Linked DNA regions of Homo sapiens: region 2 is linked to region 1. The links come from fine-mapping of genetic effects on gene expression. Tissue or cell type: whole blood. Region 1 holds a variant in brackets; the other region holds the start of a gene. All regions are shown on one strand. Distances are between the middles of the regions.

Region 1 (8,106 bases):
GCGGCCTCCTCCACCCGCTCCTGCAGGCCCACCATGCCCACCTGTTGGCCACGATGCTGGGGTAATAGGCCTTCTGGTTCTCGTCCACCTTCAGGTCACTCTGGTGGATGAAGCGCTCCTGCTCCTCGAAGGCTCGAATGACGCTGACCCCCAGCAAGGTCTCGTTGAAATGGGAATAGACCGGGGAGCGGCTGACCGACTCGAGGCGCTTCAGCTGCCGGGAGGAAGCCACGTAGAACCTCTGGGGTAGAGAACAGACGCGGGGAGTTGATGAAGGTTCCCTCCTGCCATCCTCCCAGGGCAGGGCTGTGCTGGAGAACATCTAGACGTAACCGATACCTCCAGGAGGCAAAATGTTAGAGCCGGGCTGCCCTCACAGGGGTGCCCACTCACCTGGTGAACCACAGGAATAGCACCACCAATGACAAGGACAGTGACAATAATAGCTCACGCTTATACAAAGCCCACAGCCCCAGGCATCGTTCTAAGCAGTTTTACAAACATCAGTTCATTCAATCCTCACAAAAAACCTGAGGTGCTCATTCCTATATGTGATGGGTAGACTAAGGCACAAAGAAGCTAGTTAATCTCCTCCCCAAGGTCACATGGCTAGCAAGGGGCAGAACTGGGATTCAAACCCAGGCCATCTGGGCTGCAAAGTGCTAACCTCTACCCTGTACTGCCTCTCTGAAGCCTTTCACCTCTAGGGTTTTCTGGAACCAGCAGTGTGGTTTTCAGCATAGGCTTTGAGGTCAACGAGACCTCAGTTCAAATCCTGACTCAACTACTGACTGGCAATATAAACACGACTAACACTTTACTTCTCTAAGCCTCAGTTTCCTTATCTGTAAAATGGGAACAACAAGGCTTGCTCGGCCAGGTGGGGTGGCTCATGCTTGTAATACCCGCACTTCAGGAGGCAGAGGCGGGAGATCACTTGAGGCCAGGAGTCTGAGACCAGCCCAGGCACATGGCAAAATGCCATCTCTACAAAAATAAAATATTATTAAGAAAACAAACGAAACAAAACAAAGCTTGCTTCACGGGGTCATTGTGAGGGTGACATGTAAGAGTTACAGTCTTACATGTGATGTGTATTTGCGTGGACACATTATTTCATAAATCATATAGATATGCATGATGTCACTAAGCACAGTGCCTGGTAATACTAGGTTGAACCACAGGAAATAGCTGTTTCTGTAGATAAGAAATAAGTATTAGCAGTTTCATATAGTTTGACCTAACAGTAAGCATTCAGTTAGCTGGTGACTATTGTTATCATTAAGTGACAGAATTCCGCCTGTTGATCACATCCCCTCAGGAGTGACTGTGTCCATGCAATGGCCGGTTCCAGCACACTCAGCCCAGCTGAGATGCCCATGAGGATAGGGTCAATCTCGTCACCCCCCTCCGATGGCCTCCCAGCGCTGTTAGAGTTGCCAACCATGCTTCTTCCCTCAACTCATCTCATCCTGTAACTCTCCCCTTCCTTCCCTGCACACAGGCCGCCTGCCTCCACCCACCATGCCCATCCCGTCCAGGCCATTCCTCATCACCCAGCAGATGGGAGCACAGATGTCACTTCCTCGGGAAGCCCTTCCCATCCTCCATGAGCACCTTCTCCGGGCTTCAGTGTCCCAGCTCCCGGGCTACGATGATACGTTTCACAAGCAGCTCCACCCACCCTCGCGGGCAGATGCTTCATCTGCTCTGCCTCCCCCAACCTGGGCATTCAGCCAGTGCCAGGCACCAAGAGCCTCCCGATAAGTCTTGTTAGATTCAGAACAAAAGCCAACCACCTTCTGCAAGCTTTGTGGAGCTGTGGATCAGAGGCTGCACCAGCCATGTGAGGACACTGCGCTCTCCTAGCCTAGGTTTTTCTCATCTACGCAAAAGGAACTGGTGAGCCCGGGGTTCCTGATTCCACAAGGTGCCTACAATTGCTTATCGACAGGAGAGCTGGGAAAACTAACAAAGGGTTGCTAGGAACTCGGCCTCCCTGCATCCTGCCCTGGGCCAGGTGTACTGGGCTGCTTTGGGGCAGAGTCCAACAAAAAGCATCAATAGCAGCAGGTGGCTTTTACAAGGCCTCTGTGGTTGGCAGCTTCTTCCTGGGTGGCGGCACGGGCGTTAATTGCAACCCACAGATGGAGAGTCTTCTGGGGCCCCAGAAGCTATGTAAGTGAACCCAGGTACCGCACAACCCCACGCAGTCTCAGAATAGCTGTTCTGCCAATTCCTGGAATGTGGATCAGATATAATTTCTTCTCCAGCTGTTCCCACCGCCTCCCATGAAATCCAGACCCCTCTGCATGGCTGAAGGCCCAGGTGATCTGCCCCATCTTACCCTGGACCACATCTCCTTCCTCTCTTACCAGCTTGCTTTCTGAACAATCCAGATGCAAATCGCTCTCAAGTGTGTTACCTGTTCACTTTCCTCCACTTGCCACTGCCTCTGAACCTTACTTACTGGAAAAATCTAACCTGAGATGAATATTTGTTCAGGAATGATCTTATTTTATTTTTTAAGACAGTCTCGCTCTGTCACCCTGGCTGGAGTGCAGTGGCACAATCTTGGCTCATTGCAACCTCTGCCTCCCAGGTTCAAGCAATTCTCCTGCCTTAGCCTCCTAAGTAGCTGGAATTGCAGGCGCCCACCACCGTGCCTGGCTAATTTTTCTATTTTTAGTAGAGATGGGGTTTCACCATGTTGGCCAGGCTGGTCTCAAACTCCTGACCTCAGGTGATCCACCTGCCCTGCCGATCTGATGTTTTTTTCAGACAACTCGCCCTGTCACCAAGGCTGAAGTGCACTGGCACAATGTCAGCTCACTGCAACCTCCGCCTCCGAGGCTCAAGTGACCCTTCCATCTCAGCCTCCCAAGCAGGTGGGACTACAGGTTCACGCCACCACACCCAGCTAATTTTTGTATTTTCTGTAGAGACCAGGTTTTCCCATGTTGCTCAGGCTGGTCTCGAACTCCTGGGCCCAAGCAATCCTCCTGTCTAGGCCTCCCAAAGGGCTGGGATTAAAGGCATGAGCCACTGCACCCGACCGAACTTCATATAAATGAAATCTCACAGTACCTACTCTTTTTCGTCTGGCTTCTTTTGATCACTATAACATCTCTGAGATAAACCCAAATTGTTGTGTATTAGCATTTCATTCCTTTTTACTACTCAACCATAAATTGTATAATTATATCACAATTTATTTCTCCACGGTCCTGTTAATGGACATTTGAGCTGTTTCCAGTTTGGGCGATTATGAATCAAGATGCTGAGAACATTCTAAGCACTGCCTTTGCTCTTTTTTTTTTTTTTTTTTTTTTAATATACACTTAGGAATGAGACTGCCTAGTGAGAGGATAAATGTAAATTTAGCCAAAAGCCATTAAAAAATTAACTATTCTATAATCTCAACCCTTAAAAAGACGATGTTTTCATGTATCTGCCTCCCTTCCAGTCCTGCCCACACACATTATGCATTTCATCTCGGTGATAACGACAGTGCACCTAGAACTTGGTCCTTTGCTAAAATCATTTCCTTTGTTGTTGAAAAATAAAAATCCTTGGTGCTCCAACAGCTGCGTCTTCTAATTATCCCTGCTCAAAGCCACATTGCTCCACGGTGTACCCAAGGTCCTGCTATTGGCAGACATTTAAGTTGCCTTCAACACTGCATTTGGCCTGTTTTGTTCTTTTTGGGTCTTTCAGGAAATTTTCCAGCTTGCGTATGAACACAGATAACATATTTGGTAAATGCAGGGGAAAAAAAAAAAAAAAAAAAAGCTGGCACCAATTTCAAGAGGATATAACGAGACTCCAGGAACTGGACCTACTCTCTCTGATTCCATCACTGTTCGTTCTCATCAATCATTGGGCCACAGTGTGGTGGGGCGCAGGGGCCACATGATTGAACCAAGGCCCCCTGGATGCCACCTGAACAGCTGTGCAGCGTGGTTTGAGATATGGTGAGCCTCATGGTTTCTTACTCTTGTTTTGCTTTGCAGCTGGAATGCTCCCATCTAAACAACCCATCCCTACTGGCAATTGTGCTGCGGTTAATCCTTTAGCGGTAACAGCAGTTTTGGAATTGGACAGACTTGAGGTTGCACTCTCAGCTCTCCCACTTAGCAAGATGCTCCACCTGTCAATTGAAAACATTATCTATCCTGCGATATCCTAAGAAACCACATGTGTTCAAAGAACAAAGAACATATAACCGTTTCTGCAGAAGGGATGCAGCAGAGACGACTGACTGCCTACACAATTTCTCCTTTCCCAACAGAAACTTCTCTGTTTTTTTTTAGACAGAGTATCACTCTGTTGCCCAGGCTGGATTGCAGTGATGCAATCTTGGCTCACTGCAACCTCCACCTCCCAGGTTCAAGCAATTCTCCTGTCTCAGCCTTCAGAGCAGCTGGGACTATAGGCACATGCCACCACACCTGGCTAATTTTTGTATTTTTAGTAGAGGTGGGGTTTCACCATATTGGTCAGGCTGCTCTCGAACTCCTGACTTCAGGTGATACACGCGCCTCGGCCTCCCAAAGGG[G/C]TAGGGTTACAGGCGTGAGCCACCGTGCCTAGGCCCAACTGAAAGTTTTTGCTGGGAAGTGCAATGTGCCCAGCTAAAACACGGCACTTTCCAGGGTCCCTTGTGAATAGAGGTGGTCCCATGACTAAGTTCTGGACAATTAGATGTACAGGTGTCCCTCTAATCCAAGGTTGCACTTTCCGTGGTTATATGGTTTGGCTGTGTCCCCACCCAAATTTCATCTTGAATTGTAGTTCCCTTAATCCCCATGTGTCATGGGAGGGACCAGGTGGAGATAACTGAATCGTGGGGGCAGTTTCCCCCAACCCTCATGATAGTGAGTTAGTTCTCACAAGATCTGATGGTTTTATAAGGGGGCTCCCCGACTTCGTGGTGCTCTCATTCTTCTTCCTACTGCCATGTGAAGAAGGACATGTTTGCTTCTCCTTCTGCCATGGCCTCCTCAGCCATGCGGAACTGTGAGTCAATTAAACCTCTTTCCTTAATAAATTACCCAGTATTGGGTATTTCTTCATAGCAGTATGAGGACAAACTAACACACATGGTTTCGGTTATCCATGGTCAACTGTGGTCCAAAAATAATGTGTAAGTTTTAAATTGTGCACCCTTCTGAGTAGTGTGATGAAATCCCCCCCAGTCCCATCCGCGGTGTGAATCATCCCTTTGTCCAGCAGGTCCATGCTGCAGACCCTCCCTGTCAGTTTAGTCACTTAATAGCCATATCGGTTATCAGACTGACGGCCATTGTACTGCAGTGCTTATGGGTAAGTAATCCGAATTTACTCAATAATGCCCCTGGCTGGGCTCAGTGGGTCAATGCCTGTAATCCCAGCACTTTGGCAGGCTGAGGCGGGCGGATCACTTGACGTCAGGAGTTTGAGACTAGCCTGGCCAACATGGTGAAACCTCGTCTCTACTAAAAATACAAAAACTAGCTGGGTGTGGCGCATGCCTGTAATCCCAGCTACTTGGGAGGCTGAGGCAAGAGAATCACTTGAACCCGGGAGGCAGATGTTGCAGTGAGCCGAGATTCCATCACTGCACTCCAGCCTGAAGGACACAGCTAAACTCTGTCTCAAAAAAAAAAGTAATAAAAATAACGCCTCTAATGTGGAGAAGTAGTGATACTGGCATATTGTTATAATTGTTCTATTTTATTATTATAAATTACTGCTATTAATCTATTATGCCAAATTTATAAATTAAACTTTATCATAGGTATGTATGTACAGAAAAAAACAGGATATGTAGGATTCAATACTATCTGCAGTTTAAGGCATCCATTGGGGGAGTCTTAGAATGTGTGCCTGCAGATAAGGGAGTAGTGCTGATTCAGCACCCATATGCTCCCTTGCCCTACTTCCCTTCCTTGATCTCACTGACTGAAATATAGATATAATGGCTGGAGCTCCAGCAGCCACCTTGGACCATGAGGCCAACTTAAGAATGAAAGGGGCCGGGCGCAGTGGCTCACGCCTGTAATCCCAGCACTTTGGGAGGCTGAGGCAGGCGAATCACGAGGTCAGGAGATTGAGACCATCCTGGCTAACATGGTGAAACCTTGTCTCTACTGAAAATACAAAAAAAATTAGCTGGGCGTAGTGGCGGGCGCCTGTAGTCCCAGCTACTCGGGAGGCTGAGGCAGGAGAATGGTGTGAACCCGAGAGGTGGAGCTTGCAGTGAGCCGAGATCGCGCCACTGCACTCCAGCCTGGGCGACAGAGCGAGACTCCATGTCAAATTAAAAAAAAAAAAGAAAGAAAGAAAGAATGAAAGGCTTGTATAAATATGGTAAGATTTTTTAAATTTTTAAATAAAAGCAGGTATCTGGGATATTAAACTCATGAAGCTGCCATACCAGCCCTGAACAGCCTACCTCTAAATTTCTATTATGACAGAGAAAAAGAAAACGTCTATCTTATTTAGGCTGCTATTAGTCATGTTTTTTGTTTAGTTCCTGCCTCCTGCAGGAGGCTTAAGAACTAAAGAATTTTATACTTGAAGAAATTTTAGGCTGGACGCAGTGGCTCACATCTGTAATCCCAACACTTGGGGAGGTCGAGGTGGGTGGATCACCTGAGCTCAGGAGTTTGAGACCAGCCTGGCCAACACTGGTGAAACCCTGTCTCTACTAAAAATACAAAAATTAGCCGGCCGTGGTGGTGCGCACCTGTTAACTCAGGAGGCTGAGGCAGGGGAATCACTTGAACTGGGAGGTGGAGGTTGCAGTAAGCCAAGATTGTGCCACTGCACTCCAGCCTGGGTGACAGAGCGAGACTCTGTCTCAAGAAAAAAAAAGAAATTTTAATAATGAAGTTGTCTTTATAGTGATAGGTTTTGTTTCCTTTTTGAATTGACAGGTGGAAAAGTAAAACTTAGGAAAAAACTGCATTCCACAAAAAAAGTGCATTTTGTTATTGTGAGCAAAAAAACAATTTAGGTATTCGAAACTGACAAAAACAAATCTACATGCTTCAAAAGCACCACACTGGGGACATGGTAAGATAAAACAAGGCTTTAGGTAACACTGGTATATAATGCACAGTAGGGCTTGTCCCGAACACTAAGACCTCACCCCTTACCTGGACGAAGAAGTAGATGAGGCCAAGGGGCGGGATGATGATGGCGGCGATGGGCGTGGCCAGCAGGATAACGATGCAGGCACCAATGACGTTGAACAGGGAGCCCATGAACATCTTGATGACCTCCGGGATCATGGAGTCCACTGTGTCCAGCTCCTTGGAGAAGCGGTTCACCAGGTTCCCACTGGGGGTCCGCTCAAAGAAGCTCATGGGTGACCGCAGGATGCTGTGCAGCAGGTCCACGTGCAGACAGCGGGAAGCCAAGATCCCCCCGATGGACACGGCCATGGAGTAGCCAAACACGGCGATCCCTGCAGACACTCGGAGTTAAAACTCCACAATGCAGAGAGGGAGCTGACCAGGCACTGCAGGGAGGAGTGGCCATGTGGACGAGGCAGGCCTGGACTCCCAACTTCTAATAATAATAATAATGATGAACCAGGCATGGTGGCTCACACCTGTAATCCCAGCACTTTGGGAGGCCGAGGTGGGTGGATCACTTGAGGTCAGGAGATCGAGACCAGCCTGGCCAACACAGTGAAACTCCGTCTCTCCTAAAAATACAAAAATTAGCCAGGCGTGGTGGTTGGCGCCTGTAATCCCAGCTACTCGGGAGGCTGAGGCAAGGGAATTGCTTGAATCCGGGAGGTGGAGGTTGCAGTGAGCCAAGACTGCGTCCACTCCACTCCAACATGGGCGACAGAATGAGACTCCGTCTCAAAAAAAAAAAAATAGTAATAATAATGATGATGATAATGGCAGCTATTATTCAGAGGGTACTTCCTATGTGCTAAGCACTGTGCTGGGTTTTACATGTAACTGATTTTTATGATGACTCTGAATAACTTCTATTACTACCCAACTTACAGATAAGAAAACTGAAGTCCAGATAGGTGAACGCCTTTGCCCTTAGTATACTGTGCCTAGCAGAAGCAGAACTGGGATTTTAATCCAGACAGCCTGCTCT
Region 2 (8,106 bases), 170 kb after region 1:
TTACTGAGTTGGTGGATGCCACAGAGCATCTCAGAGGTGCACATCAACCCTGGGACCAGCTCACTCCATCGACGGTGACACACACCTGCAGCTTCCTTCTGGTCTTCTCCAGTGGCAGTTGGTGCAACAGCAAAAATTAACTGGAGAATTCCAGGTGGCAACGACCACTGATCTTTACTGAGCGCTGTGTGCCAAGCAGCAACATTTTAAGTCCTTGCTAAGGATTAACTCACTTATTCCTCAAGTCACCGCTATTCACTAGGTACTACGTTATCCCACATAGGGAAACTGAGGCACGGAGAGATGACGTAACCTGCCTCAGCAGCAGAGGCGAATTTGCTCTGAGCCACCACACTATACTGCTTAATACCAAGTTGTTTCCTCTGCTTTTCCATAATTTCCAATTTTTCTACACAGGGCCTGAAGCACAATTTTTTTTTTCTTTTGAGACAGTCTCTCTGTCGCCCAGGTTGGAGTGCAGTGATGTGATCTCAGCTCACTGCAACCTCTTCCCAGGTTCAAGCAATTCTCCTGCCTCAGCCTCCCAAGTAGCTGGAATTACAGGCGTGAATCACCAGGCCCAGCTAATTTTTGTATTTTTAGTAGGGATGGGGTTTTGCCATGTTGGTCAGGCTGGTCTTGAACCCCTGACCTCAGGTGATCCGCCTGCCTTGGCCTCCCAAAGTGCTGGGATTACAGGCATGATCTACTACACCCGGCCCTCTTTTTTTTGAGACAGGGTCTCAGTCTGTGGCCCAGACTGGAGTGCAGTGACCGTGATCTCAGCTCATTGCAACCTCCACCCCCACAGCCTTCAAGTGATTCTAGTGCCTCAGCCTCCCTAGTAGCCGGGACCACAGGTGCCACACCACCATGCCAGGCTTTTTTTTTTTTTTTGGTATTATTAGTAGAGACGGGGGTCAATCCATGTTGCCTAGGCTGGTCTCGAACTCCTGACCTCAAGCAATCCGCCTGCCTCAGCCTCCCAAAGTGCTGGGATTACAGGCGTGAGCCACTGCACCCGGCCTGCTTTTTTTTTTTTTTTTTTTTTTTTTTTTAATGAACTCACAAAAAGTCCCAGGCCCATTTTTCCAACCATCATGCCAATATCAACCACAAAGCAGCGCCTCCTACCAGTCCCACCCCCATGAGAAAAGAAAGCCAAGGGCTGCTGTGACCTGTCCTCAGGCCCTATTTTCCGTTTTGATAGCAAAGTTCTCCTTTTCTCTTCCCAGAGCATCTGTCTGAGTAAAGGTCAACAGAACACTTATCATGGGCCATTTCCATCTTCTGGGTTTTCTGGACATTTCCTGCGGCTCAGAGGCAGACAGTAGCCCAGAAACAAAGCTCTGACAGAGTCACCCGAGGCCCACTGACCTTGACTTCTAAGCACATGACCTTGGTCACAACAGGAGCCAGGCACGGGTGCCTCACTGCCTTTTCACAGCCCAATCCCATCTCCACCAGCTGAAGAAAAGGGGAATCCAAAGGAAGAACAAGGAGCTTAAAACACACAACTTCATCTTTGGAAAAAATAATATTTAATACTAACCATTGTTTATCTCCGTGCAGGGCACAAGCTGAGCCACTTACAAGATTAACTCATTGACCCTTCGCAACAACCCAAGAAGGCTGCCACATTTTTGGCTCCTGTCCAATTTTAGAGATGAGGAAAGTGAGGCACACAGAGGGAAAGTGGCTTGCTCAAGGTCACACAGTTATCTGACTGCCTGGGAGGCCAGTCGCTCCTGGCCTCGGACACGCTACCTTGAAAAACACAAAAACAGCCGGGCACAGAGGCCCATGCCTGTAATCTCAACACTTTTGGAGGCCAAGGCAGGAGGATCGCTTGAGCCCAGGAGTAGGAGACCAGCCTGGGCAATATAGTGCGAATCTGTCTCTATAAAAAATACAAAAATTAGCTGGGCGTGGTGGCACACGCCTATAGTCCCAGGTACTTGGGAGGCTGAGTTAGGAGGACCACTTGAGCCGGGGAGGCAGAGATTGCAGTAAGCTGAGATCGTGCCACTGCACTCCAGCCTGGGTGACAGAGCAAGACTCTGTCTCAAAAAAGAAAAAGAAAAAAAAAAGAAAAGAAAAAAGCAACAACTACCTACTTTCTAGCTTTCAGTTAATTATATTTCAATTTTCCCACTCAGGCCCCAGTTGCCTCCTCTCAAATTCTGGTTCCAAGGCACCTCCAACAAGTCTTGGAATCCAGACAGCAGAAATACGCAAGGTCAAACACGGGGATGGGGTACCTACCAGAGGCAGAGATCAGCTACAATTACCCCCAAGCAAAACCCAACCACCTGGCAATTTCTGTGGCAGAAAGTCCTTAACGAAGGAAAAAATAAAAAGAAAAAAGAAAATAAAAATTTTAAAAAATATTACAACTGGACTTCGTGAATGAGTTTCTTAAGATAAACAAAGCGCACCCCAAACATACTCATTAGCCATCAACTACCAATTGCCATCAATAAAATACGTCCTGATACAAAACCTCATGGATGTTCACCCTGTTTTGCCCCCTCCTCAATTCAGAAGAAAATAAACAAGAGAATATTCTGGAATTCACAGCAACACAAACCCAGATCACCATGTGAATCTTTGCAAAAAATAATCTTGCTGTTACTACACCTGGCAACAAGGAAGCCACAGGTTTTCCCCTGCTAAAGAAAGTCCATCTGCAAAGAGGCTCCAATCACCCCCAGACCCTCAAGGCAAAGTCTGTGTTCTATTTCCACCCCTGGGGTTACTCTCCAACCCCACTGGCTTAAAATGGGAGATATATCAAAGTGTGGTAGGTTATTAAACACAATGATACCCTACTAAAAAAAACAAACAAACAAAACCAAACCCTCCAATGGGGCCCTGGAGGATGACTTTTCAACACTCCAAATGCAACCCTCGAGGAAAGGCCGGCAAAACAGGACAAGAAAGTATTTTTGGAAGCTGATCACCAGCTCCTAAGAACCAAGGCTGTTTCTCCTGATTCCTAAACAAAAGAGGAGAGAGAAACAGTCGTGTCCAGATTTGCCTACTGCGTTCACCAACAATCAAGACAGCACGAGACAGAAGTGCCTGCCTTCCTGGAACAAAGAGGCAAATCGCATTACGGAGAAGCTGAAGCCCAAAAGACTGGGGCTTAAACCACAGCAAGTGGACTCCAGACACCCAGTCAGGCTCCGCAGGCCACGTTACAGAAGAAAACTTGCCGGGGTTAAATCTAAGGGGCATCCCCAGAGAGGAGCTCCACGTGTTGCAGGGAAGGGAGGGCAGGACCACAGCTACCAGGGTCCTGGGCGTCCTCAGCTGCACCCCAAGTCTGCCCCGAGCCGAGGGTCAGGTAGGGCACATCAAGGGTGGACATCCCCCTTCTTCCCTGGTTCCCCCAAACTTCCCCCGCAGTATCTAAGTAGAAAGAACAAAAAAAACAAAGCTAGGTAACCACAGAAGAGTAATGTGGCTTGTACGACAACTTTGGGGAGACAATGAAAGTCCCTTTCTACAATCTAAGCCCCTCCCCAGCTCACCCCGTTGGTCACGGAGTATTTTTCGTGAAAAGGGGGGACCCTAACCACAAAAAAGATGGGAAAACAGAAGCAGAGAGACACCCCTCTTCCCGCCCCCCATCTCTAGCGTCCCCTTCCCTGGAAGGTTGTTTTTACAGACGGGAACCCCAAAACAGGAAGGCCTCCTCACGGCGGCTCTGACCCGACCCGACCCTCCAAAACCCCAGGGCTGGGCACGCGGCCCCCCACGCTCTGCTCCGCAGGAACTGAGTCACCCAAGTTTCCCCCATGCCTTGCACCCCCGAAAGGGGCTGGGCCGCGGGCGACGTGAGGGTCCCGGGCCCCCGAGGCCGGCAGCAGAGCGGGGAGCGGGGTGCCCCGGGCGGCTGCGGGCCCGGTGCTTTCCCTCCCCGCCGGCCTCCCTCCGTCCCGCCGGCCTCACGCGGCCCCCGGCACGTACCCAGAGCGGGTCGGAGCCATCGGCGCTGCAGAAGCCCCGGAGCGCCATGCCGGTGGCGCGGGCGGCGGCGGGCACCGGGCGGCGGGTGATCGGGCCCGGTTGCTGGCGCGGGCGGCGGCGGGCACCGGGCGGCGGGTGATCGGGCCCGGCTGCTGGCGCTAGCGCTGGCGGCGGCGGCGGCGGCGGCGCAGGGAGCCGGGGCCGGGGCCGCAACGCCGCCTGGTTGGCCCGCGCGTCACGGGGATGCGGCGGCCCCGCCCCACCCCGCCCCGCCCCGGCGCCCGCTCACCTCGCGCGTCTCGGCGTGGGCAGCCGGACCAGCCACCTCTCGGCGCCCCGGGCCTGGACCCCGCGCCACCCCCACCCCAGATCCTCCAAGGCTTAGGCCCACCCGCTCGCGGACGGGCCTGGGGAGCGTTGGCTCGCCTTCCGGAAGCGCCTGGGATCTTTGGGGCCACACACCCTGCGACCACTTTTCAAATGCTGTTTAAGGACAGTATCCGTCACCAGGGGAAAATAACGTGAACGGAGCCCCCTACCTGCCTGGAGTGTACCGGGCGCCTTAACTGTGCCCTCATTTCATCCTGTAAAGTCTCCACGTTCATGAAGGAAGAAACCCAGGTGCAGAGAGGTTGAGTGATTCCCTCTGCCCAGGGTCACCTGGCTAATCACTTGCAGGGCTGGGATTTGAACCCGGTCCGCTGACTCCAAAGCTGAGTCACACAGAAGGAGGTGAATACTGTTATTCACCTACCTTTTACAGATGGGGAAACTGAGGTTCAGAAAGGCGAAGTGACTTGCCCGAGGTCACACAGTTAATAAGGAGTGAAAGTGGAAGTGAGATTCAAACCCGTGAGCAGCCTGATTCCGGAGCACTGATGACCCAGACGGCGCCAGTCTCCATCACTAACAGCTGTTGACCTCACCTGTGTGCAGAGCGCCTTTGCTTCTTCTCAACCTCTTTAAGCATCACTTAGAAATAACCAGGTTATTGATCCTCACCTCAGAGGTAAGGAAACTGAAGCCTGGAGACATGATAATCGTAGGCCAGGCATGGTGGCTCGTGCTTGTAATCAAGCACTTTGGGAAGCCGAGGCGGGCCGATCACATAAGGTCAGGAGTTCAAGACCAGCCTAGCCAACATAGCAAAACCCTGTCTCTACTAAAAACACAAAAATTAGCCGGGCATGGTGGCGGGCACCTGTAGTCCCAGCTACTTGAGAAGCTGAAACAGGAGAATCACTTGAACCTGGGAGGCGGAGGTTGAAATGAGCTTAGATCACACCACTGCACTCCAGCCTGGGCAACAGAGCAAGACTCTGTCTCAAAAAATAATAATAAAAAAAATTAATATGCATTCACAGTGACAAGGCTTCCTAAGGCTGTGTTCTTAGCAATTTACACAAATTAACTTGTGCAATCCTCACAACCCCATGAGGTAAGAAGTAGTATTATCCCCATTTTGCAGATGAGGCCACTAAGGCCCAGAAAGACAGAGTACATTGTCAGGGATTATTTAGATGGTAAGTGATTAAGCCAAACTTTGAACCCAAGAAGTCTGGCCAGGGAGGTGGGAAGTCTATAATACCATCCATTGCGCCATATTAGTTTTGAACTGTTTCATAGGCAGACAGGTAGAGACAGAGGAGCTAGGGCGAGGCCGCAGAGTGTAAATTTCACTGTGATACCAGCGATGCCTTTCTTTTCTCCTCTCCTCCTTAATCTCCTGCCTGATGTGGGTTTCCATAACACATGCACACAACAGCTGCACCAAATAAAACAGAAACAGTGTGTGCATTTGAGACCTCCCCCCAATCAAAGGACCTAGCGAGGGAAGGAGGAAGGAGGAAGGTAGATAGGATTGTTTTCTGTGATTTTTTTATTGGCCCGGGTCCCCCAAGGGTGAATGAGTTTCTAAGGGATAATTACTTTCATGTAATAATGCCAGTTATGCTGTTGCTTGACCTTTATACTGTCAACAAATATTTATTGAGCATTTACTATATGCCAGATGTCTTGCTAGGAACAAGATAAAATTGCTACTCTTATATAGCTTAAAGGATTGGAATTTTTTTGGATTGGGATTTTTTTAAGTGTTTCTTATGGTAAGATGGCAGATGTTAATCAAATATTATATTTTTGAAAGGGTATTTACAGGCCAGAAGTAGTGACTCACGCATGTAATCTCAGTGCTTTGGGAGGCCGAGGTGGGAGGCTCATTTGGCCCAGGAGTTCAAGGCTACAGTGAGCTATGATTGCACCGCTGCACTGCAGCCTGGGTAACACAGCGAGATCCTGTCTCAGGAAAAAAAAAACAAAAAAAAAAGCCAGGGAAGGGGAGATATGTACAACTATGGTCACAGCTAGAAAAAAAAAGTGGTGGCCGGGCATGGTGGCTCACGCCTGTAATCCCAGCACTTTGGGAGGCCAAGGCAGGCAGATCACTTAAGGTCAGGAGTTCGAGACCAGTCTGACCGATGGTAAAACCCCATCTCTACTAAAAATACAAAAATTAGCTGGGTGTGGTGGCAGGCACCTGCAGGCTCAGCTACTCGGGAGGCTGAGGCAGGAGAATCACTTGAACCTGGGAGGCGGAGGTTGCAGTAAGCCAAGATCATGCCACTGCACTCCAGCCTGGGCGACAAAGCAATACTCTATCTCAAATAAATAAATAAATAAATGTAAAAATACAAAAATTAGCTGGACATGGTGGTGGGTGCCTGTAATCCCAGCTATTCAGGAAGCTAAGGCAGGAGAATCACTTGAACCCAGGAGATGGAGGTTGCAGTGAGCTGAGATGGCCCCACTGCACTCCAGCCTGGACGACAAAGTGTGACTCCATCTCAAAAACACAAACAAAAAAAGTGGGCAAAAGTGGGCCTAAGTTAGCAATTTATACCACCCTTGCTGGGGGGTGGAAGTCAGAGAAGGCTTCCTGGAGGAAGAGGCTTTCAAACTGAGATACAAGGAACGCGTCTGGGTTCCTTGGGCCTGGGTTGTGTTCTGGGCAGAAGAAAACAGTTTATAGCAAAGTTATGAAGCAGGGAGGGTCCTTGGAGGAAACTGAAGACAGCCTGGATGGCAGGAACCCAGAGAAGAAGCAAAAGAAATCCATCCGGAGCAGGTGGGGTCAGAAGGAGCCAGGGCAGGCAGGTACCCGTCGGCCAAAGGAGGGGCAGTGGGAACCACTGGTGGGTTTTAGGCAGGGCACAAGACAGAGTTGGATTTCTTTCCATGTTTTATTCATTCACTCTTTATTCATCCTTTCAACAAATATTTATTGAGCAAGCACATGAAAACATGCTCAACTTCATTAGTCATCAGGGAAATGCAAATAAAACCCCAGTGAAATACCATCATACACCCACCAGAGTGACTGGAAACAAAGACTGAAAATTACGAGTGCAGACAAAGACGTGGATTAACTGGAAAAGGCACGCTCTGTTGGGAGGTATATAAATTGGCTTAACTACTTTGGAAAACTAACAATTTGGCTGGGTGCAGTGGCTCATGCCTGTAATCCCAGCACTTTGGGTGGCCGAGGCAGGTGGATCTCTTGAGCTCAGGAGATTGAGACCAGCCTGAGCAACATGGTGAAACCCCATCTCTACAAAAAATACAAAAAGGTGGGCCAAGGTGGGTGGATTGCCTGAGCTCAGGAGTTCAAGACCAGCCTGGCTGACATGAGGAAACCCCATCTCTATTAACAATACAAAAAAATTAGCCAGGCATGGTGGCACATGCCTGTAATCCGAGCTACTCGGGAGGCTAAGGCAGGAGAACTGCTTGAACCTGGGAGGCGCAGGTTGCAGTGAGCTAAGATCGCGCCACCGCGCTCCAGCCTGGGCGACAGAGTGAGACTCTGTCTCAAAAGTAAAATAAAATAAAATAAAATTAGCTGGGCGTTGTGGCACATGCCTATAGTCTCAGCTACTTGGGGAGCTGAGGCACAACACTCACTTGAACCCAGGAGGCACAGGTTGCTCTGAGCCAAGATCGCACCACTTCACTCCAGCCTAGGTGACAGAGTGAGACTCCATCTCCAAAAAAGAAAGAAAACTAATAATTCGTGCTAAAGTGAAACATACAATTACATAGTGACACAGAAATTCCACTCGCCTCCAAAAGAAA

What was found. PIP is the estimated chance that this variant, and not a neighbour inherited with it, causes the effect.
Region 2: it holds the start of ABCC1, and the variant in region 1 is fine-mapped to the expression of ABCC1 in whole blood (TOPMed, PIP above 0.99).

The regions. Positions count from the first base shown.
Region 1 is chr16:16,114,110-16,122,215 of GRCh38, reverse strand. It overlaps ABCC1 (ATP binding cassette subfamily C member 1 (ABCC1 blood group)), which reads right to left. Exons shown (of 31, transcript NM_004996.4): 23 at 7,140-7,450; 24 at 42-241. Among named protein-coding and RNA genes, the nearest start is that of ABCC6, 110 kb to the left of the region's middle. The variant G/C (reference allele first, on the strand shown) is at 4,559.
Region 2 is chr16:15,945,669-15,953,774 of GRCh38, reverse strand. ABCC1 (ATP binding cassette subfamily C member 1 (ABCC1 blood group)) reads right to left here and starts at 4,159. Exons shown (of 31, transcript NM_004996.4): 1 at 3,976-4,159. The coding sequence starts at 4,023. LOC107984869 (a long non-coding RNA gene) reads left to right here and starts at 4,604. Exons shown (of 3, transcript XR_001752339.2): 1 at 4,604-4,984.